Linked DNA regions of Homo sapiens. The protein of the gene in region 6 purifies or fractionates together with the protein of the main gene of each other region. This does not show direct contact. Each region holds a gene or a part of one and is shown on either strand. Other genes may lie near its edges.

Region 1 (3,500 bases), on a different chromosome or scaffold from region 6:
CAGCCACTGATAGGAGCCATCGCTGCAGGTCTGGTGCCACCTTATGTCTATATACCTTTTTAGGGAGGCTTATTTTCTCATATTAATTGGAAATTAAGGATAGTGGCTAATTAAATACATTTACTTGGTGATTTGCCTTTGTTTACACCACCAGTGTACTGAGAATTCATACATACCATACATATTTTTAAATGGGCTGCTGAGGAGATTTGTGTGGCTATGTTTTGAAGCACCTGGGGAATGAACCTGTGGGAGTGTAAAGATGTGTGAGTCAGCAGGCCCAGGAGTTTGGAGTCAGGCATCCATGTTCTAATATGGTTTCAGTTGCTGGCTCTGGCTTCGGATGAACCATTTGATTCTGTCTGACCAGTTTCTTCATTCAAATAAAGACTATGAGAGTAATGCTAGCTTGGGTATATAGCAAATGCCAGGAGATTAATTTCTCACTTTGCAGGATCCAGATAGAGAGATGTATGTTGAAATGGCTCACTTGCCCAATAATTCCAGGGCAGAGAGGACAATCTAAGGGCAGAAGTGGGAGAAAAGCGATAGAAAGCTGGAGGAGTGGGAAAGGCTGCTGGAACCCATTGTCAGTGACCTGAAGATGAGGACAGCTAAGGAGTTAGCCTTAGAAGAGAAAGTGAGATGAGCTCTTATGCTAATTATGAGGATATGCAGCATTGAGAGCTGCAGAAATAATTGGGAGTACCTAGCCTGTTCTTCCCACTGAACATCATTTTGGTAGCTATTAAAGTTAAATATTAGATGATACTGTTCTACTTTTTACTTTATTTAGGAAATGCTGTGATTATAAAGCCTTCTGAACTGAGTGAAAATACAGCCAAGATCTTGGCAAAGCTTCTCCCTCAGTATTTAGACCAGGTAAGAATTTCTTGACTCATCTCCAACATATGTGTTTACTGTGGAAAACACACATTTTATTTTCTTGCTATTGCATGTTATTGCTGGCCGGGGACCCAATTGCAGTCTCTTTAAGCCTTCAACAGTTGGCTTAGCAAAAGAAGTTCGGTTCCAAAATACACGGAGTGTATTTTGTGTGGAGTCACCCAGCTCTTGGGGTTACACAATATATGTAGGCCCATGGCTTCATGCCAAACAGATTCTGTGTTTGTCTGGGATTTGGGGTTAATTTTTGAGCTAACATGATTTTAGGTGTTTTCATTTAATGGATTATTTAATGAGGGACTGGTACTGTGCTGGGTGCTGACATATTTCTGTTACTAACAATCTCTTTTGTTCTAACAAAATGTACTTTTCTGTGATTATATAAGAGTACTTTTTTTTTTTTTTTGAGATGGAATCTTGCTCTGTCACCCAGGCTGTAGTGCTGTGGTGTGATCTCGGCTCACTGCAACCTTTGCCTCCTGGGTGCAAGCGATTCTTCTGCCTCAGCCTCCCAAGTAGCTGGGATTACAGACGTGTGCCACCATGCCCAGCTAGTTTTTGTATTTTTGGTAGCGATGGGGTTTCACCGTGTTGGTCAGGCTGGTCTCGAGCTCCTGACCTCAGGTGATCCGCCCAGCTTGGCCTCCGAAAGTGCTGGGATTACAGGTGTGAGCCACCATGCCCATGTGTCTGGAATTGGTGGGTTCTCGGTCTCACTGACTTCAAGAATGAAGCCGCGGACCCTTGCAGTGAGTGTTACAGTTCTTAAAGATGGTGTGTCCGGAGTTTGTTTCTTCTGATGTTCGGACATGTTCGGAGTTTCTTCCTTCTGGTGGGTTCGTGGTCTTGCTGGCTTCAGGAGTGAAGCTGCAGACCTTCGTGGTGAGTGTTACAGCTCTTAAGGCGGCGCATCTGGAGTTGTTAGTTCCTCCTGTCTGGAGTTGTTCATTCCTCCCGGTGGGTTCGTGGTCTCGCTGGCCTCAGGAGTGAAGCTGCAGACCTTCGCAGTGAGTGTTACAGCTCATAACGGCAGTGCGGACCCAGAGTGAGCAGCAGCAGCAAGATTTATTGCAAAGACTGAAAGAACAAAGCTTCCACAGTGTCAAAGGGGACCCGAGCAGGTTGCCGCTGCTGGCTTGGGCAGCCTGCTTTTATTCCCTTATCTGGCCCCACCCGCATCCTGCTGATTGGTCCATTTTACAGAGAGCTGATTGGTCCGTTTTGACAGGGTGCTGATTGGTGCGTTTACAATCCCTGAGCTAGACACAGAATGCTGATTGGTGCATTTACAATCCTCTAGCTAGACATAAAAGTTCTCCAAGTCCCCACTAGATTAGCTAGACACAGAGCACTGATTGGTGCATTTACAAACCTTGAGCTAGACATAGAGTGCTGACTGGTGCTTTTACAATCCTCTAGCTAGACATAAAAGTTCTCCAAATCCCCACCAGATTAGCTAGATACAGAGTGCTGATTGGTGCATCCACAAACCCCAAGCTAGACACAGAGTGCTGATTGGTGCATATACAATCCTCCGGCTAGACATAAAAGTTCTCTAAGTCCCCACCCGACTCAGGAGCCCAGCTGGCTTTGCCTAGTGGATCCCACGCCGGGGCTGTGGGTGGAGCTGCCCATCAGTCCAGCGCTGCGCGCCTGCACCCCTCAGCCCTTGGGCGGTCGATGGGACTGGGCGCTGTGGAGCAGGGGGCGGCGCCCATCAGGGAGGCTCGGGCAGCATGGGAACCCACCAGGGGCGGGGTGGGGGCCTTGGGCATGGCGGGCTGCAGGTCCCGAGCCCTGCCCTGCGGGGAGGTGGCTGAGGCCCGGCGAGAATTCGAGTGTGGCGCTGGTGGGCTGGCATTGCTGGGGGACCCGGGGCACCCTCCTCAGCAGCTGGCCCAGGTGCTAAGCCCCTCATTGCCCAGGGCTGGCGGCGCCGGCCAGCTGCTCCGAGTGTGGGGCCCATTGAGCCTGCGCCCACCCAGAACTCGCTCTGGCTTGTGAGCGCCACGCGCAGCCCCGGTTCCTGCCTGCGCCTCTCCCTCCACACCTTCCCACAAGCAGAAGGAGCCGGCTCCAGCCTTGGCCAGCCCAGAGAGGGGCTCCCACAGTGCAGCTGTGGGCTGAAGGGCTCCTCAAGCGTGGCGAGAGTGGGTGCCAAGGCCAAGGAGGTGCTGAGAGCGAGCAAGGGTTGCCCGCACGCTCTCACCTCTCACCCAGCCTATAAGAGTACTTCTGCTTTCAAAAAAGACATGTCTGTGGCATGAAAACATGCCACACATACACAAAAAGTGCCCTCCTGAACTAGAGGGCAGATCCTCACACTGACTTAACATGCTGGCATTTAAGAATATCAAGAACTGAATAAAGAAAATGATCTGCCCAACTGCGGGTAGTTCATCTGTCTGAGTCAGAGGTTCTTATGCCTTCCTGGGGAGGAAGTTATGATGCCGCGAAGAAATTGGCACTGCTGAGTTCTACATGCAGTTGCTACAGGGAGGAGTCTTCATTTAGCTTTAAGCGAAATACAGCTTAAAAATATCTTACCTGTATTCTGTACATCAACTTGTGATGGATTGAGGCCAGTTCTGGTT
Region 2 (3,500 bases), about 29 Mb from region 6:
AATGAGGGGCCACAGCAAAGAGGTCACTAGCAGCCACAGCCTTCTCTCTGGGGTTGGGGTTCACTGGTTAGCCGGCCTCCCTGCGGGGCTGAAGGTTTGTGTTGTACACCAGACTCAGCAGCATTCAGATCCAAGCTTCCATCCTGAATGTTCTGATAGATTTTCTTGGCAGCCTCAAGGAAGGCATCTTCTACATTCTCTCCCCTAAGAGGCAATTGATAACTTTATTGGAGAACCACAGTTTTCTACAAAAGACAAGACACTGACCTTTTGCTAATCTTTAGTTAACTGCCATGATGTCTCCAACTTAACCACTGTCATCTAATAAGAGATTACCAGAACACTGAGCTAAGAGAACATGGAAAACTATTTTCCTTTTTTTTTTTTTTTTTTTTTTGAGACAGAGACTCACTCTGTCACCAGGCTGGAGTGCAGTGGCCCGATCTCAGCTCACTGCAACCTCCACCTCCCAAGTTCAAGCGATTCTCCTGCTTCAGCCTCCCGAGTAGCTGGGACTACAGGAGCACACCACCACGCCCAGCTAATTTTTGTATTTTTAGTAAAGACAGGGTTTCACCATGTTGGCCAGGGTGGTCTCGATCTCCTGACCTCGTGATCCGCCTGCCTTGGCTTCCCAAAGTGCTGGGATTACAGGTATGAGCCACCACACCCGGCCGGAAAACTACTTTCTATGGAAAGCATACATACATACGTGTACTGAAAGCCCTTTCTACAAACCCTATTTGGACAACTACATGTGTTATATGCAATCATTAAAATACTGTATGTTAATACACACCATGACAATTCAGATAGGTCATTTCTGTGATAACAGAGAGGATACTCCAAACAGAAATGAAATCTCTCTGAACATGCTGAAAAAAATTCCAAGAATAATATGGTCTGCTCAGCCAAGCATGAACTGAGCTGTTTTTAATCGGGTAATGGTGACATAATCATGCTTAGCCACGTTAACACCTCCATTCAGTTTTCTTTGGACTAATAGCACAGCTGAGACTAAACGAAAACAGGTTAGCCTCTCCTCACCACAAGAAATTTTTGGCCTAATAAATGAAGAACAATGATGGGTGTACCACAGTTCAATAGCAGACATGGAAGAACAATTAGAAAATGTTCACTATGCTTCTGAGTAGACACTATTCCCTTAAATCATGCTTTTTAATGTGATCAGAAGTATTACAGGAAGAACAGATTGACCAAGCTTGTCTGAGATGCCAAACTCAACCTCACTTGTGAAAAGTCAAACACTGTCATTTGGGAAAAGTCAAACACTTTTGAAATGTAAACAAAGTTTCATTTATTAACCTGGGTTACCAACAGGCATAATCAAGGTACAATCTTTTAAGTAACAAAAATTCATATTATTTTGAAATGTAAAAAAGGAAGCAAAGAGATGTTTGCTGTTCTTCCTGCAGTAAGCATTACACATTTATAGATAGTACTTTATATGTGTATATACATTATATACTTTTCATATATACGGTTCTACTTTGAGAAACTTGAATATAATTGAAATATCTGTATTTTGGTCACACTTACGTTTTTGCACTCGCTTCGAGGAACAATAAGCCTAAAAATAAAATTCAGACTATAATTAGGACACTTCAAACTAACTCACAAGTGCACTTCTTTAGTAACATCTGAAAAAGTTTCCCATCAGTTTTTAGTACTCCTCCCATAGTATTTTATGAAAAAGTATGTAAGTTTGAGGTGGAGAGCATCTTTATATTTGTCACTAAATAACTGTACTGCTCCAACATAAATCACACAGAAATAGAAACACATTGTTACTTCCTCATTCTTGAGATTTCTGAGTCTGCATTTAAAAAAAAAATGCAAAAAAAAACCAACAAAACTGTCAAGCCCACCTTTCCTTAAAAATTCTCCCAATTGTGACCATTAAGTCTTAAAGAAACTCACCATTTTCTTCAGCAAACTGTTTGGCTTCTTCATATGTAACATCTCTCTGTGCCTCCAAATCTGCTTTATTTCCTATGAGAATTATTACCTAATTTGTGATCAAAAGAAAGACACCTTGTAACAAAAGCAGTAATTTAAACCAACCATGCAAATTCTGAAATCCAAAAATCTTGATAGAAAAAATGACTGGGCCTAAAAAGAAAACCAAGTACTAGCAATTATCCACTAGACAGGGCTACAGATTCATGAAGTCATTACTACAAAGGACCTTAGCAATGATCTAGGTCAGGGGTTGACAAACTTTCTGTAAAGAATAAATACTATATTCTTCAGGTTTGTGGGCCTCATATGGTCTCTGTTACATGTTCGTTGCTGGGTTTTTTTGTTGTTGTTTTTAACAACCCTTTAAAAATTTAAAAATCATCCTTAGTTCACAAGCCAGTCAAAAACAGGCTGTGGGCTGAATGTGGCCCACAGGCCATACATACTTTGGTGACACCTGGTCTAGTCCAAAGATTACGATATAGCTGAGTAAGATTACTAAGGGTTCATGGACAAGCTCCAGGGGATCTGTAAATACCTTGAAATACTGTAAATACTGTAATTGTGGGCATTCCCTAGAGGAGAAGATTCATGGCTTCCATCAGGTTTTCAAACAGTTCTGAGATCCTCAAAAAGTTTGAAAGCCACTAGGTTCAACTCCTTTAGGCTATCAGTAAGGAAACTGAAGCTCAAATAAGGCAAAAGGACTTGCTGAAGGTCACTCAGTGAGTCAGTGGTAGGAGGACATTAGATCTCAGGTAGAAACCCAAACTGAGATCTTGAGACAAATACTATCCTACCCCACACTATCCCTAGAAAGGATTGAGTTTATAGTTAACAGTAACTGATAAGAGATGTCTATGTGTATACACAAGGGGCAGCTGGGAGTAGGGGTTTGGGGGCACGTATGCAGTAAGTTCAAATCCAAGGCAAAATATCACCCACCAACCTATATCCACCTTGGAACCATTCATACAAGTGAAGTTAGGCCAAAGTTAAAGGCAGCTCTGCAAAGTTGTAAGAAAAAAATATGTACCCTTGGGAAACAGCAAAGGGCTTTGGCCTTTACCTGGGGTGGGGAGGGGGGTTATGGATAAACTGTCTTTGTACATTTATGAGCTTATTTGACACCAACTGGTAAAATCCTTCCCTTTTTCCCCCTTCCAAACAGATATGGTAATCTAGATATGAACACTTTAGGAATGGATGGTTTCAACTAAAAGGCACTTCAGCCATTAACTTTTTTTCATGTAAAATTACAGCTCCTGGCTCTTCCACTTTCAAAAATGTGTGTCCATAAACCAAATAATCATTTTTATCTGAATGTAAACCTCATGCAAGGACAGTTAAGTAGTACAACAAAAGTGAGCATTCTTTAAACAGTGTGGACAAAGTGCCCACTGTGAAGGGGAAGAAACTTTCATATACTATCCATTAGTATTTTAAAAGAATAAAATAATGATACTTAAAAAGGAAATCAATTTATAAAAAATCAAGTCTGGTAAAGCCACAATGAC
Region 3 (3,005 bases), on a different chromosome or scaffold from region 6:
TCCACATTTTCCAGTTAAACACACATGCCCTGTTGTCTGGGGTAGTGGTTCTCAAAAGCAGCCTACAAGCGGGTCAGGAAGGCAGTCTCACAAAGCATGAATGTAAAGTCTATTCCACGCTGTGGGTTACAGCAGTACAGAAATGATAACATGGGCAGACTGTTTCTCTATTGGTATGAAGAAAGCAGCAGAGAGGTACTTTTGGGGGCTTTTTGCCATGCCTATCAAAGGGGCCTAAATGTTGAAAAATAAATATTTTGAGAACCACTGCTGTAGGACCTGACCAAAAAAAAAAACAAAAAAAAAACCTGTGGTAAAAAGCATACAGATCATCAGATTAACATTGACCAATCTCATCAGCATCTCAATACTATCTTTAGATTGTGGACTGATGGCGGGTCCACAGATCACCAGAGAGAACTTGCTTTATCTGTCAACCTTCAGCCTAAAGTGAGTAGGTCAGTAATGAGTTTCTAGTATTGGTAAAGTCAGTGTCTTAAATGGAAAAGCAAGTGGGCAGTTGTATGTTTTCACACAAGTGGTGTTAAGTAATAAGAAATGGAGGTGGGGGTACATTTTTGGAAAGTGAAGTCTTTATAAAAAGTAAAGACAGTATTTTCTGAAATGTTTGAAGGAGGGGATTTAGCAAGCAGGGATGAAGAAAAGGCATTTAGGATCTTGTCTATGGTCTGGAAAAAGCTTATAGGTACAAAAAATATTAGATATTGGGAGAGTTAAAAAGTTATTTGGGGGATAGGCAAGGAGAGGAAAGAACAGGCTCAGATGTGAAGACCATATACGACAGATTGGGTAATAAGACTTTCATCTGCTCAGTCTTGACTTTAAATTCCATCCATTCATCCATCCACACATGTAGTGACTGTCAATACATGTTGACATTACACGTAAAGGTATAAGCTTATGTGCCAGACACTTGGATAAAAAGATGACTGAGACATGATCTCTGTCTCTAGGAGCTGTCTAGGAGTTAAATAAGTGTGTGGGCTGTGTGTGTGTGTGATCTATCTATGACTTTACAACTCAATGCCATAGATCCTTTAAGTTTTAAGAGAGTGCCATGTGAGGGTGCGGGATTAACAAATAGCCTGGGAAAACTGTAAAAAATGTGAAACGATATAATAGTTTAACTGGCTCTCAAAAGATGCAAAAGAGCTTTGGCAAGCAGAGGAAGATGTACAAACAGGCAAAAGGAAAGAGGCCAGAAAGTCCACCGGGCAGCTGGAAACAGTAAGAGGCATGCTAATGCCTAGGTGCTGAGAAGATAATTTGTTTAGGAATAAATTGTAAAATACCTTGTATTTCAAATGATTTTCCAACAGGCTCTGGTGAGCTGAGGCAGTCAAGAGATTGAAAGGTTAGAGATAAGCTAGATAAGGTGCCTAATTTAAGCCACTGGTGGGGACTATGAAGAATGGGTCTGAATTCAGAGAGCAGATGGATTCAACAGAATATGCTGAAAACAGACGATGGCAGTGGGTTTTCCCATATAGGAAAGAATGAACCTATCAAGCCTGCAGAATCAATTTCAATGCCATTAGGGGTTGAGAAAAGAACGACTGTGGTTTAATTAGGATAGGATTTTCTTCAGAGAGAAGGGGAAAGAAGTGAAAGTTAACACAAGGCCAGAACAGGTCAGGTGAGGCATTTTTTTTAAACCATGAAAGAGATACAGAATATGGTAGGGGAAAAGGTCATGATCAAGTTAGAATGAAGAGTCAGGAGAGACATTAATTATAGCAACCCAGTGTGGTTCCAATTAAGCAGAGAGGCTACAGCAAATGAGGAGGACAAAGAGACAACATCAGGTATGAAGGCAGATCACAGACTGGGCACAGGGGCTGAGTTTTATGTGGAGGTAAAGACAGAAGACACTTACATATAAGGACCTGATACAGAGAAAGAGATTAAGGAAGTAAATAGGAATGGTGTTAGTAGAGATAATGTTCCTGAAACCTTAGTGGGAATTTTTTTACTTAAATGGTTTGATTGATACAATGAGAGGTTACAGGGATCTAAGGAAGTCTAGGCAGTAATCTGTCGAAGCTGCTGGAGAGGATGACGAAATGGGGCGAGGAGGCAAGATGCGGGGGCCTTTCCATGGCAAGAAAATACTGAATGCACTGCCATAATGTAAATATGAGAGTTACACAGACAAAGCAAGGCAAATACCAAAGAGAATCAGGAAAGAATGCCCTGAAGATCTGCATTAAAACTGTTCTCTGAAATTAAGCTTGTCTTGTGAGGATTCACTGAAAATGAGAGTCAACCACTAAGGAGATTTGTATGAAAAGAACCCAGCGAATTAGAGAAAAGATAGATGCTGGCAGCTAAGACAGGAGAGGGACATGTGAGTTGGGCCAGGGTACAGAAAATGCAGTGTGGCAAAGGGCAGAGTGGGAAAGGTGGGAGGGAGCTGCCAGGTCTCAACCACCTGGGGGAGACCATGACAAAGTAAGAGACACTTATGAGGTATTTCCAGAAAGCTTTGTTAGAATAATAATTAAAGAAAAGGGTATGTCACTAGGGCAAAAGATTAGAAAGAAGGCAAAAGAGATGGATCTGTACAGGCTAACTGCAGCAGTCTATGCAGGTCTGGACTGAACTGAGAAGCAATGGGTGCAGCATAGTGTGTAGGACATCGAGGAAAGCTGGGCAGTGAGTGCCAAAATAAGCAATACACACCTACCTGGAAAATCGTGTTGAGTCTGTGGGAATGCTGTACAAATGGTGGGAGGGAGTTTTTCTCTAGGACAAATTCAGAAAGGGAAGGAGGAATGGTACTGGAAAGCAACATTAGAGTTGTCCTCAGATGAAAAGGAGTTGGTCACTAAGGAATGACACACATCAACAGGAAGGTAAGACAGCATTGCTGGGCCAAAAGTCATAAGAGAGTATGAAATAAGAGACTGGAAGCAAAGGAAAGAAAATATTACATAAGGAAGGGCCTACTGGCAGAGCAGGTGTGGAATAAAGATTTAGAATGG
Region 4 (2,598 bases), on a different chromosome or scaffold from region 6:
CTCAGGTGTTCAGTGATCCTCTCACCTCAACCTCCCAAGTAGCTAGAACTACAGGCATGTGCCACCACGCCCAGCTAATTTTTTAAGTTTTTGTAGAGATGGGGTCTCACTGTGTTGCCAAGGCTGGTCTCGAACTCCTGGGCTCAAGTGATCCCCCTGCCTTGGCCTCCCAAAGTGCTGGGATTACAGGCATGGGCCACCATGCCCAGTCTTATGAATAAATGTATCTTGAAACACTTGGCAGGGCCTCCCCAAACACAGAAGACAATTTAAAGCAATTGGTGAAACAAATTTAAAAGTGCCTGAACTGCTTAAGAATTCAAGCAAAGACAAGTGGGAGACTGGTCAGATTTAAATTATCTTTGACAAGCAAAGGGTGGTCCAACTAGTTTCCTCTTGGCCAGGCCTGTTTACTGACTGTAAGCTAATGATCAAATAAGAGCTAATGATTAGGAATGGTCCGAAGAGGGCTCTCTAAAAGGTACATCTGGCTGGCAATCTGAGATCTGTGAGTAACCACTAGAAAAAAAGAAGTTTCTGCATTCCATGTCTGGGGCATCGACTGCAGTTCATTTAGTTTTAATTTCCGTTGTGAAGTGCTCTTCCCTTGCCCATTTTATATATTTTTGACTATAGCATTTTGAGAGGGACACAATGCTTTGCTTTACACACAATTCAAGCCTCCACAAGAAAACCTTTCTAACCCTTGTCGCAAATATTGGGAATATGTCTCACCTGCTCTGACTGTGTCAGCTTCATGGCTTCAGAAAGATATGCTGTTAAGAGAAAAAATAGGCATGTTAATATGTGTCTTCATTTTGTAATTAACAGGTAAAAGGAAGAGTTTTAATAATCTTCATATGACAAAGAGAACTGGTCTGATAACTCTGATACAATTGGGGATTTTTTAAAAGAATTCTTAACTTCCCCCAAAAGGATGTCAGTGGCAATAAAATGAAAATATTCCCTACCCTATCTTGAAGGTTTTGTTATTTAAAACTCCTACAGATTTTATAATTCAGAAACTGAAGATGGTCTAATCAGAAAAATAGGTTTAGGAAAGATAAAAATCAAACAAGAACCTATCCAAACCCTATTACTCATCATACTCACAAAAATATCATGAGATTATCAATGACTTTTTATCCGTCTGAATACCTGGAATCTATCATTTTGGACTCCTATAGAATCACTTTTAATGAATTGTCTCTGAGTTAAACCATCAGCCTTATGGTTAAAAGCCCTAAGAACTTGTTGACATATTTACTGCGAGGAAGTTACTGAGGACAGTATAATGTCATTTATGAAGACCTTCAATAAACTTCTCTCTGATCTTAGATCCTCGGTGACTATTTGTTTGAATTTTAATAGCCAATGTAAAAATTATTATCTTTCCTCTTTAGGATGACTGCTAGAAAACTTAAGTCAAGTTCTTAAAAAAATATGCAAGAACTAATGGTACATTTTGTGAACTACACTACTAGTCCTTTCTCATTTTCTCTATGGATGTCCTTATCTATGTATCTTTAATTACATTCGATATTTTATTGTACATTCATCTGTAAGACATTTTATAACCTTTCGGGAACAAGGTTAGGTATAAATAAGTTCTCTATTATCAATGAATTGTCCATAATGAATCTCCATTTTTATCTTGCTTGTTATAAACATTTTTGGCATCTCTCATACCTACATTAAGTTCCTCTTTTGCCCTTTTGCAGATACTACGAGGCATTGCTTTCTGTCCAGTCTTAATCCAAATAATTTAATGCTTTGATGTCATAACTTAAGAGTTCTTGCCTGCTAGGTTCTACCACAGTCTTTAAGATACAATTATATCAGGGGTCCCAAACCCCCAGGCCGGTACTGGTCTATGTCTTGTTAGGAACTGGGCCACACAGACAGCAGGAAGTGAGCAGCAGGCAAGCCAGTGAAGTTTCATCTGTATTTACAGCCACTCCCCATTGCTTGCATTACCGCCTGAGTTCTGCCTCCCATCAGATCAGCAGCGGCATTAGCTTCTCATAGCACAAACCCTACTGCAAACTGCACAAGCAAGGGATCTAGGTTGCACTCTCCTTATGATAATCTAATACCTGATGATCTGTCGCTGTCTCCCATCACCCCTAGATGAGACTGTCTAGCTGCAGGAAAACAAGCTCAGGGCTCCCACTGATTCTACATTATGTTGAGTTGTATAATTATTTATTTCTATTATTACATTGTAAAATATAAAGTGTACAATAAATGTAATGTGCTTGAATCATCCAAAAACCATTTTCCTGACCCCAGGTCTATGGAAAATTGACTTCCACAAAACCAGTCCCTGGCAGCAAAAAGGTTGGGACTGCTGAATTAGATGCTCCCTTTCCAAGAAAAAGAAGAGTTGGAGCCAGGCGCAGTGGCTAGCACTTTGGGAGGCCAAACAGGAGGACTGCCTGAGCCCAGGAGTTCAAGACTAGACTGGGTAACATAGCGGGACCCTGTATCAATTTAAAAAGAATTTAAAAAAAAAAAAGGAAAGAAAAAACAGAGTTGGTTATACAGTCTTTGCTCCAGCTATGCTTACCATAATTACATCCTTCCCACAACCCTTGT
Region 5 (3,500 bases), on a different chromosome or scaffold from region 6:
CTCAAAAAAAAAAAAAAGTGTGAAATGCAGGTATGAGTGGTCAGACATCTTTAGGGGGCATTTCCATAGCAACAAAGTGATTTTTTTTTGGTACCAAGTTTGATTCTTGTGGAACTTCTGTGAGTGTAGGTGATCCTGCCTTGAGGAGAGTGGGATCTATTTGTTAATTCATCCATTAGACCTAGAAGCCTATTTTTAATTATTCATTTCAATTCTTAGAATATCTTCTCCAAGATTTTATCATGGATTTTTTTTTTTCTTTTATGAGACAGGGTCTCTCTCTGTCACCCAAGCTGGAGTGCAGTGAGATGATCTCAGCTCACTGCAACCTCCCCTCTCCGGGCTCAAATGATCCTCCCACCTCAGCCTCCCATATAGCTGGGACCAGGGGTGCACACCACCACACCCAGCTTTTTTTTTGTATCTTTAGTAGAGACAGGGGTCTTGCCATGTTGCCCAGGCTGGTCTAGAACTCTTGAGCTCAACCAGTCTGCCTGCCTCGGCCTCCCAAAGTGCTGGAATTACAGGCGTGACCGACCACACCCAGCCTATCATGGATGTTTTCAAACAAAAAAAAAAGGTTAAAAGAATTAGTGAACACCCATATGCCCTCTACTTAAATTCTATCATATACACTTTACTATATATTCACCTATCCATCTGTTCATCTCTCTCTCCATCACTATATCAATTCATTTTATTTCTGATGTATTTAAAGTTGCAGACATCAGTATACATGACCCTTAAACACTTCAGCATGCACAGCATTATTTAGAGTTAAATATTTGTTTGCAGCTCTTTTTGTGTGTGTGTGGCAAAATTGGCTTACACTAACATGCTTGAATCTTAAATGCATCAAGTTTTACAAACATAGACATCTGTGTAGCCCCAAACCCTATCAAAATACAGAATGTTACTGTCACCCCATAGAGTCCTCTCATGCCCCATCCTAGACAATCCCCACACCCTTGCTTCCTCCAGGCAACCCCTGTTCTACTTTTCATTTCCACCATAAATTAGTTTTGCCTATTCTGGGACTTCATGTTAGTGGAATCATACTCTAGAAGCTTTATATGTTAGCTCTTAAATTTAGGTCTATGGTCCATCTTGAGTTAATTCATATGTGGGGTGAGATAGGAACTATGACCCTTTATTTACACTATACATACAAATTAATTCAAGATGGATCATAGAGTTAGTTTTTCTTTTCTTTTTCTTTTCTTTTTTTTTTGTTGTTGTTGTTGAGACAGAGTTTCGCTCTTGTTGCCCAGGCTAGAGTGCAATGGCACGATCTCGGCTCACTGCAACCTCCACCTCCCAGGTTCAAGCGATTCTCCTGCCTCATCCTCCCGAGTAGCTGGGATTACAGGCATGTACCACCGCGCCCAACTAATTTTGTATTTTTAGTAGAGATGGGGTTTCTCCTTGTTAATCAGGCTGGTCTCAAACTCCGGACCTCCGGTGGTCTGCCTGCCTCGGCCTCCCAAAGTGCTGGGATTACAGGCATGAGCCACCGCGCCCAGCCTAGAGTTAGTTTTTCTTTGCATGTTTTTTAACATGTTAGGAACATATGTATATATTGACATCTACCCCATTCCTTCAGTAGTAAATCTAGGCGTAAATCAAAATGCTATTCTACATCACAGAATCATTGATGGTAATCCTCTTTCTAGAGATTTCTTTGAATGTCCTTCACTTATTTTACTGTCTTTTAAAAGTAACAGAAAATTGCCCTGAAAAATAATTTATAATTTAAATATTTTCTACTCTGAGGTTTTTCTTTTGTCTATTTTAACTTTATAGTCACTTTCACAGGAATTATATGGGAAAATGATCACAAAGCAGAGAATAGACTAGTTTTTTGTGTGTGTGTGTGACAGGGTCTCACTCTGTCACTCAGGCTGGAGTGCGGTGGCACAATTGTAGCCCACTGAAACCTTGAACTCCCAGGCTGAGCCTCCTAAAGTGCTGGGATTACAGGCATGAGCCACTGTGCCTGGCCTTAAGATTTTTATGTGATTTATTAGTTTTTAGCCCCAAAGTACTGTTTAAATTGTTCTTACACATAAGACATTCATTTTTACCTCCTCATGTGAAGAGTTAGACTTTTATTTGAAGATGATTTTTCCCCCGGGCAGCTTTATTAATTCACACATTTAGGTAATAGGACCTCTGGATCTTCACAAGGCAAAGGATGTTTTTATTTTTGTCAGTGCTTAACTCTTAGAGAAATCAGAATTTTTTTTTTTTTTTTTTTTTTTTCGAGACACAGTTTTGCTGTTGCCCAGGCTGGAGTGCAATGGCGCAATCTTGGCTCACTGCAACTTCCATCTCCCAGGTTCAAGCGATTCTTCTGCCTCAGCCCCCTGAGTAGCTGGGATTACAGGCACACACCACCACGCCTGGCTAATTTTTTTGAATTTTTAGTAAAGACATGGTTTCACCATGTTGGCCAGGCTGGTCTCAAACTCCTGACCTCAGGTGATCTGCCTGCCTTGGCCTCCCAAAGTGCTGGGATTACAGGCATGAGCTACCGTGCCCGGCCTAAATATTGACAAAATATTTGATCATAGTGTCTTTTTCCCCACCTCTGGTGTTTTCATATGCCTTTACTTATGAAGGAGAGCACAGAGTAAGGTTAGCAAAGATAGAATCTCTGAGTTTATATTCCAGACACACATACTTTATTTGTCACCTCAAATTTCCCAACTATTCATCCGAATTAAGGAGAATTTATTTTTTTTTCCTGCTAGTCCATTTTAGTATAATATTTTGAGGGTGTTTTCTGTATCTGATAATTTTATTTAGTGATACTTGGGGATGTCATAATCAGAAATAACTCACTCTCCATTTTAGCCAAAGCCTCACTTGTTTTTTTGAGACGGAGTTTTGCTTTTGTTGCCCAGGCTGGAGTGCAGTGGTGAGGTCTCGGCTTACTGCAACCTCCGCCTCCCGGGTTCAAGTGATTCTCTTGTCTCAGCCTCCCAAGTAGCTGAGATTACAGGCACGCGCCACCACGCCTGGCTAATTTTTGTATTTTTAGTAGAGATGGAGTTTCACCATGTTGGCTGGGCTGGTCTCGGACTCCTGACCTCAGGTGATCCACCTCCCTCAGCCTCCCAAAGTGCTGGGATTATAGGCGTGAGCCACCACGCCCAGCCACATAATAATTAAAAGAGTTATTAGAGGCTAGGTGTAGTGTCTCACATCTGTAATCCCATCAGTTTGGGAGGCCAAGGCAGATGGATCGCTTGAGGTCAGGAGTTTGAGACCAGCCTGGCCAACATGGCGAAACCTTGTCTCTATCAAAAATATAAAAATTAGTTGGGTGTGGTGGTGCGCGCCTATGATTCCAGCTACTTGGGAGGCTGAGGCATGAGAATCGCTTGAACTTGGGAGGCAGAGGTTATAGTGAGCAGATTGCACCACTGCACTCCAGCCTGGGGAACAGAGTGAGACTCTGTCTCAAAAATATTGAATAAAAATAAAAGAGTTATTAG
Region 6 (3,500 bases):
AGAGACAGCAGGGCAGGCGTGGTGGCCCACGCCTGTAATCCAGCACTTTGGGAGGCCCAGGCGGGTGGATCAGGAGGTCAAGAGATTGAGACCTGAGGAGCATCTCTGCCTGTACCATCTGGGAAGTGAGGAGCGCCTCTGCCCGGCTGCTCCACCATCTGGGAAGTGAGGAGCGCCTCTGCCCAGCCGCCCCACCATCTGGGAAGTGAGGAGCGCCTCTGCCTGGCCACCGCACCGTCTGGGCAGTGAGGAGCGCCTCTGCCAGGCCCCCACCCTCTCTGGGAAGTGACGAGTGCCTCTGCCTGGCCGCCTCACAGCCCGGGAAGTGAGGAGTGCCTCTGCCCAGCCGCCGCCCTGTCTGGGAAGTAAGGAGCGCCTCTGCCTTGCCGCCGTCCTGTCTGCGAAGTGAGGAGTGCCTCTGCCCGGCCTCCTCACCGTCTGGGAAATGAGGAGCGCCTCTGCCTTGCCGCCGTCCTGTCTGCGAAGTGAGGAGTGCCTCTGCCCGGCCTCCTCACCATCTGGGAAATGAGAAGCACCTCTGCCTGGCCGCCGTCCCATCTGGGAAGTGAGGAGCACTTCTGCCCAGCCGCCACCCTGTCTGGCAAGTGAGGAGCACCTCTGCCCGGCCCCCTCACCGTTTGTAAGGGAGGAGCGCCTCTGCCCAGCCCCTGCACCGTCTGGGAAGTGAGGAGCGCCTCTGCCCGGCCCCCTCACCATCTGGGAAGTGAGGAGCGTCTCTGCCCGCTGCTGTGCAACCTTCCAAGTGTGAAGTGACAGCCTTGTGTGTGATCTTTCTGCCCTCCCCAAGTCTGCATTTTCGACATTAAAGTTTACTTTTTAATTAAAAAAAAGGAGATTGAGATCATTCTGGCCAACATGGTGAAACTCCGTCTCTACTGAAAATACAAAAATTAGGCAGGCATGGTGGCTTGTGCCTGTAGTCTCAGCTACTCGAGAGGCTGAGGCAGGAGAATGGCTTGAACCCAGGAAGTGGAGGTTGCAGTGAGCCGAGATCGCACCACTGCACTCCAGCCTGGTGACAAAGCAAGACTCCGTCTCAAAAAAAAAAAAAAAAAAAAGTAAGACATGGCAAACTGCAGTGGCACCCAGCCTGCCCCTGCTGTCTCCACACCTGCTGAGACTCCCTGCCCCTGGCCACCTACACTTCACGGATCCCAGCTCCTCGTCTTACTCTGACTCGGCCCACGTGCTGTTGGGCCCCTCATTTTGCCTGTCCCTCCACCTTCTCTCACACCAAGAATTGAGTAAAATTTGATATCCATAATTCCTAACTCTTCCCTGGCTCTTCCCACTGACCTTGCCCCCATTTTGGGGGTTCCACCTAATGAGAAAGGAGGCTGCTCTCATTCAGCTGCAGTTTCAGTGCCTCTGACCTCTGACCCATGCCCCACACATCCTAGCCCCACATCTTTCTCCTTCCAGCCTCCCTTCAGAAGGGAGCCTCCTACACCCATATGTGTGCATTCCTCTCCTCCTCTTTCCTCCCCTCCTCCTCTTCCAGCAACTTTACTATAGAAAACAAAAGACCCAAGTATGCAAGCAATATATACCATGTAAATGGGTAGTGAGATTAAGTATCAGCAAGATACCAAGCCTCCTAAATTAATCCATAAATTCAACACACTTCTAATAAAAAACCCAAATGCATTTTTTTGGTTAAATATGATCACCTAAACCTAAACTCACAGTGAAGAAGGGTCAAGAATAGTCTAGACAATTTTGAAGAACACGGAGATAGAAAAACATTCTAATCAACGTTTATTATAAAGCTGTGGTATACATGAATGAGTCTCTGGTATAAGGAGATACGAATATATCCAATGAATAAAAATAAAAGCCAGAAATAGACCCTTTAGAAGGGAATCTGGCTTACCAAAGAAGGGAAATTTCCAAGCAGTAGGTAAATACTGGATTATTCAACTAATAATGCTGAGACAACTGACCATCATATGGAAAACAATCAAATTAGATCTTTAGGGTAGGAAACGATTCCCTAAGACTTCAAAAGACCAAACTATAAAAGATTGGTAAATTTGGGCCAGGTGCGGCGGCTCACGCCTGTAATCCCAGCACTTTGGGAGGCCGAGGCCGGCGGATCACAAAGTCAGGAAATCGAGACCATCCTGGCTAACACAGTGAAACTCCATCTCTACTAAAAATACAAAAAATTAGCCGGGCATGGCAGCATGCGCCTGTAGTCCCAGCTCCTCGGGAGGCTGAGGCAGGATAATGGCGTGAACCCGGGAGGCGAAGCTTGCAGTGAGCCGAGATTGCGCCACTACACTCCAGACTGGGCGACAGAGCGAGACTCTGTCTCAAAAAAAAAAGATTGGTAGGTTTGATTTCAGAATATATAAAAGTTTTATAAGACTGAAGAGATCTACAGAAGTAAAGAATAGAAGCTCCTGTTTGATCAGATCAGAATCAGAACAATACTACTCAGGAAAATATCTTGTATCACATTTTAAAATAAACCAAGTATTTTTATGGCAACAGGCATATATGGTAAAATTATAAATATAGGCAAAGAAAACACAATCACCAACTTCAAGACAGTAGTTATCCGTATGAGAGGCAAGAGTAAGTGATGGATGTGAAGGAATTTCTTAAGATGCATTTGTAATATTGTATTTACCTGTAAAAGTAAGTTTGAATTAAAAATAGCAAAATGTTAACACCAATTAATTCTGGGTGGTAGGTATATAGGTGTCTGATATCTATATCTATATCTGATAACTTTCTATATTCTTACTGTATTTCTTAATTAATGAAAATACATACAATATAGCAAAGATAGCCAAGAGAATGAAAAGTAAAAAATAGATGAGACACTGGAAGCAAGGAGGAAAGAGGCATAAGTGAGCGGAAGCTCCATAATTCATATTGTGGGGATCAACAGGTGTTGTCTGTAGTTGATGAATCAACAAATGGTAGTTAAGCATACTATACAGTATCTAGAATTATGAGGGTAACGTGCGACAAATTTAAAATCAGAAAATAACCAGATGGGTAAAAAGCAGAAGTCTGTTGCTTTTCATTTTAAGTGTTCGACCATTGGAAATATTAACATGTGTGCATTCTTGGAAAAAAGGGCAAACATTAATGCTTAAATTGGAGATTTTAAAAAATGCCTGTATCATCCCTAGAATAAATTTTTTAAAATCAGGAGCTAAAGCTGTTACTCCTGGGAACTTCAAAATGTTTTGTTTCAGATAAAAAAAGGACTACTACATATAAAGCACTATAGACTGCAGGTTACTACAAGAAGCCAAATACAAGTACTTCAGGTAGCAAAATCAATTTACCCTGAAACGATGTTGTAGTTGAGAGCAGGATGGTCTTTTGGGACAGGAGGAACAAGAGGTTCTGGTTGCCACTCTTCAATCAGTTCTTCTTTTTCCTACAGGAGAAAAAGAATTAAAATACAGTGCAGTGCTAATATTATCAATTATTAGTGTCTCTGCAACTTCAGTATTTCT
Region 7 (3,500 bases), on a different chromosome or scaffold from region 6:
CAATGTATCAACATTCTAGTGTAATAAATGAATTTGGCTGGGCGCGGCAGCTCATGCCTGTAATCCCAGCACTTTGGGAGGTAGAGGCAGGCGGATCATGAGGTCAGGAGTTCGAGACTAGCCTGGCAACATGGTGAAACCTGGTCTCTGCTAAAAATACAAAAATTAGCCAAGTGTGGTGGTGTGTGCCTGTAATCCCAGCTACTAAGGAGGCTGAAGCAGGAGGATTGCTTGAACCTGGGAGGTGGAGGCTGCAGTGAGCCGAGATCACACCACTGCACTCCAGCCTGAGCAACAGAACAAGAGTCTGTCTCAAAAAAATAAATGAATTTGGACATTTCTTTGGAGCAATCAGATTTAGAATTACTACCTACTCATGAACTAACATCCTATCCATTTTTAAGACATGTAGTCTTTCTTAAGAAAATGACCTCCAAAATTTGACATTAAAGCTATAATACTGTCACTGACAAATTCAAAGATAAAATACTTTTTTTTTCTTTTTCTTTTGAGACAGAGTCTTGCTCTGTTGCCCAGGCTAGAGTGCAGTGGTGCAATCTCAGTTCACTGCAACCTCCGCCTCCCAGGTTCAAGTGATTCTCCTGCCTTAGTCTCCCTGAGTAGCTGGGACTACAGGTACACGCCACTACGCCTGGCTAATTTTTGTATTTTTTAGTAGAGACGGGGTTTCACTATGTTGGCCAAACTGGTCTCGAACTCATGACCTCAGGTGATCTGCCTGCCTCAGCCTCCCAAAGTGCTGGGATTACAGGCATGAGCCACCGTGCCAGGCCAGATAAAAGACTTTTTATGTGCTATAATGTGGGATATGAATCTCTGAAGCTCCAATACAATACAGAGGCATTCATAAGATTTTAATTAAATAGAGACATATTAAAAGATCATATTTCTTTTATGTTACTTTAATTTTTTGAGATGGAGTATCACTCTATGGTCTAGGCAGGAATGCACTGGCACAATCTCGGCTCACTGCAACCTCCACCTCCCGAGTTCAGGCGATTCTCCTCCCTCAGCCTCCTGAGTAGCCAGGACTACAAGCATACACCACCACACCTGGTTAATTTTTTGTATTTTTAGGAGAGACGGGGTTTTACCATGTTGGCCAGGCTCTCTTGAACTCCTGACCTCAGGTGATCCATCCACCTCGGCCTCCCAAAGTGCTGGGATTACAGGTGTGAGCGACCGCGCTCGACCGAAAGATCTTATTTCTTACATCAAAATTCAGTAATCTGGCTGGGTGCGGTAGCTCACGCCTATAATCACAGCACTTTGGGAGGACGAGGCAGGCGAATCACCTGAGGTCAGGAATTGGAGACAAGTCTGGTCAACATGGTGAAACCTCATCTCTACTAAAAATACAAAAATTAGCCAGCTGTGGTGCCGGGCTCCTGTAATCCAGCTACTCAGGAGGCTGAGGCACGGGAATCGCTTGAAGCCGGGAGGTGGAGGTTGCAGTGAGTTGAGATTGTGCCACTGCACTCCAGCCTGGGTGACAGAGTGAGAGACCCTGTCTCAGAAAAAAACAAAAACAACAAAAAAAACTGGCAGTGATGCAAACCATTTAAAACTGGGACTGTTGGCCGGGTTCAGTGGCTCACGCCTGTAATCCCAGCACTTTCGGAGGCCGAGGCAGGCAGATTACCTGAGGTCGGGACTTCAAGACCAGTCTCACCAATATGGTGAAACTCTGTTTCTACTAAAAATACAAAATTAGCCAGGCATGGGGGCGCATACCTGTAATCCCAGCTACTCGGGAGGCTGAGGCAGGAAACGCTTGTGGTGAGTCGAGATCACACCACTGCACTCCAGCCTGGGCAACAAGAGTGAAACTCTGTCTCAAAAAAAATAATAACAAAAAAAACCCCAAAAAACTGGGACTATCTCTGCAAGTGTGAGATATACATGGTCACCAGAGACATGCATGATTACAGCTGGAGGAATGGTTAAGAGCAAAAACCAGAGGGAGGCCAAGCATGTGTCTCCTGCCTGTAATCCCATGACTTTGGAAGGCTGAGGCGGGAGAATCACTTGAGCCCAGGAGTTTGAGACAGTCTGGACAACATTGTGAGACTCCATTTCTACAATTGGAAAAAAAAAAAAAAAGGCTGGGAGTGGTGGCTCATGCCTGTAATCCCAACACTTTGGGAGGCTGAGGCAGGCAGATCACCTGAAGTCAGGAGTTTGAGACCACCTTGGCCAACATGGTGAAACCCTGTCTCTACTAAAAATACAAAAAAATTAGTCGGGCGTGGTGGCCTGCGCCTATAATCCCAGCTACTCAGTAGGCTGGGACAGGAGAACTGCTTGAATCCAGGAGATGGAGGTTGCAGTGAGCCGAGATCACGCCACTGCACTCCAGCCTGGGCGACAGAGCGAGACTCCGTCTCGGAAAAAACAAAAAAGGCTGGGAGCAGTAGCTCACATCTGTAATCCCGGCACCTTGGGAGGCCAAGGCGGGCGGATCACCTGAGGCCAGGAGTTCAAGATCAGCCCGGCCAACGTGATGAAACCCTGTCTCTACTAAAAATACAAAAATTAGCCGGGCATGGTGGCGTAATTCCAGCTACTTGGGAGGCTGAGGCAGGAGAATTGCTTGAAACTGGGAGGCGGAGATTGCAGTGAGCCAATATCACACCACTGCACTCCAGCCTGGATGCGAAGAGTGAAACTCCGTCTCAAAACACACAAACAAACAAACAGGCCAGGCACGGTGGCTCACACCTGTGATCCCAGCACTTTGAGAGGCCAAGATGGGCAGGAGTTCAAGACCAGCCTGGCCAACATGGTGAAACCCCATCTCTACTAAAAATACAAAAAAATGGCCAGGCACTGTGGCTCATGCCTGTAATCCCAGCACTTTGGGAGGCCGAGGTGGGCAGATCACCTGAGGTCGGGAGTTCGAGACCAACCTGACCAACATGGAGAAACTCTGTCTCTACTAAAAACACAAAATTAGCTGGGCATGGTGGCACGTGCCTGTAATTTCAGCTTGGGAAGGCTGAGGCAGGTGAATCGCTTGAACCTGGGAAGCAGAGGTTGCGGCGAGCTGAGATTGCGCCATTGTACTCCAGCCTGGGGAACAAGAGCGAAACTCCATCTCAAAAAACAAAACAAAATGAAACAAAAATACAAAAAAATTAGCCGGGTGTGGTGGCAGGCACCTGTAATCCTAGCTACTTGCAAGGCTAAGGCAGGAGAATCGCTAGAACCCGGGAGGTGGAGGAGGCAGAGCAAGATTCCATCTCAAAACAACAACAACAACAACAACAACAAAAACACGCTGGACGCAGTGGCTTACGCCTGTAATCCCAGCACTTTCGGAGGCCAGGGTGGGTCACCTGAGGTCAGGAGTTCGAGACCAGCTGGGCCAGCAAGGTGTAACCCCGTCTCTACTAAAAATACAAAAATTAGCTGGGTGTGGTGGTGTGTGTCTGTAGTCCCAGCTACTCGGGAGGCTGAGGCAGGAGAATCGCTTGAAC

Evidence for each region.
Region 1: the proteins of SPTLC1 (region 6) and ALDH3A2 purify together in Homo sapiens (affinity purification with mass spectrometry; one large-scale study listed by BioGRID and IntAct). This does not show direct contact.
Region 2: the proteins of SPTLC1 (region 6) and RAB14 purify together in Homo sapiens (affinity purification with mass spectrometry; one large-scale study listed by BioGRID and IntAct). This does not show direct contact.
Region 3: the proteins of SPTLC1 (region 6) and COPG2 purify together in Homo sapiens (affinity purification with mass spectrometry; one large-scale study listed by BioGRID and IntAct). This does not show direct contact.
Region 4: the proteins of SPTLC1 (region 6) and NRBF2 purify together in Homo sapiens (affinity purification with mass spectrometry; one large-scale study listed by BioGRID and IntAct). This does not show direct contact.
Region 5: the proteins of SPTLC1 (region 6) and FAM76A purify together in Homo sapiens (affinity purification with mass spectrometry; one large-scale study listed by BioGRID and IntAct). This does not show direct contact.
Region 7: the proteins of SPTLC1 (region 6) and CDK12 purify together in Homo sapiens (affinity purification with mass spectrometry; one large-scale study listed by BioGRID and IntAct). This does not show direct contact.

Annotation. Positions count from the first base shown.
Region 1 is NC_000017.11:19,651,751-19,655,250, forward strand, and holds part of ALDH3A2 (aldehyde dehydrogenase family 3 member A2), read left to right. Parts: coding exon 1-28; intron 29-796; coding exon 797-882; intron 883-3,500.
Region 2 is NC_000009.12:121,181,370-121,184,869, forward strand, and holds part of RAB14 (ras-related protein Rab-14), read right to left. Parts: intron 2,030-3,500; coding exon 1,942-2,029; intron 1,592-1,941; coding exon 1,561-1,591; intron 205-1,560; coding exon 27-204; 3' UTR 1-26.
Region 3 is NC_000007.14:130,508,744-130,511,748, forward strand, and holds part of COPG2 (coatomer subunit gamma-2), read right to left. Parts: intron 1-3,005. UniProt on the Homo sapiens protein: The coatomer is a cytosolic protein complex that binds to dilysine motifs and reversibly associates with Golgi non-clathrin-coated vesicles, which further mediate biosynthetic protein transport from the ER, via the Golgi up to the trans Golgi network.
Region 4 is NC_000010.11:63,150,328-63,152,925, reverse strand, and holds part of NRBF2 (nuclear receptor-binding factor 2), read right to left. Parts: exon of another isoform or gene 2,570-2,598; intron 777-2,569; coding exon 736-776; intron 1-735. UniProt on the Homo sapiens protein: May modulate transcriptional activation by target nuclear receptors. Can act as transcriptional activator (in vitro). Involved in starvation-induced autophagy probably by its association with PI3K complex I (PI3KC3-C1).
Region 5 is NC_000001.11:27,728,961-27,732,460, forward strand, and holds part of FAM76A (protein FAM76A), read left to right. Parts: intron 1-1,271; coding exon of another isoform or gene 1,272-1,373; intron 1,374-3,500.
Region 6 is NC_000009.12:92,105,414-92,108,913, forward strand, and holds part of SPTLC1 (serine palmitoyltransferase 1), read right to left. Parts: intron 3,422-3,500; coding exon 3,327-3,421; intron 1-3,326. UniProt on the Homo sapiens protein: Component of the serine palmitoyltransferase multisubunit enzyme (SPT) that catalyzes the initial and rate-limiting step in sphingolipid biosynthesis by condensing L-serine and activated acyl-CoA (most commonly palmitoyl-CoA) to form long-chain bases.
Region 7 is NC_000017.11:39,520,486-39,523,985, reverse strand, and holds part of CDK12 (cyclin-dependent kinase 12), read right to left. Parts: intron 1-3,500. UniProt on the Homo sapiens protein: Cyclin-dependent kinase that phosphorylates the C-terminal domain (CTD) of the large subunit of RNA polymerase II (POLR2A), thereby acting as a key regulator of transcription elongation.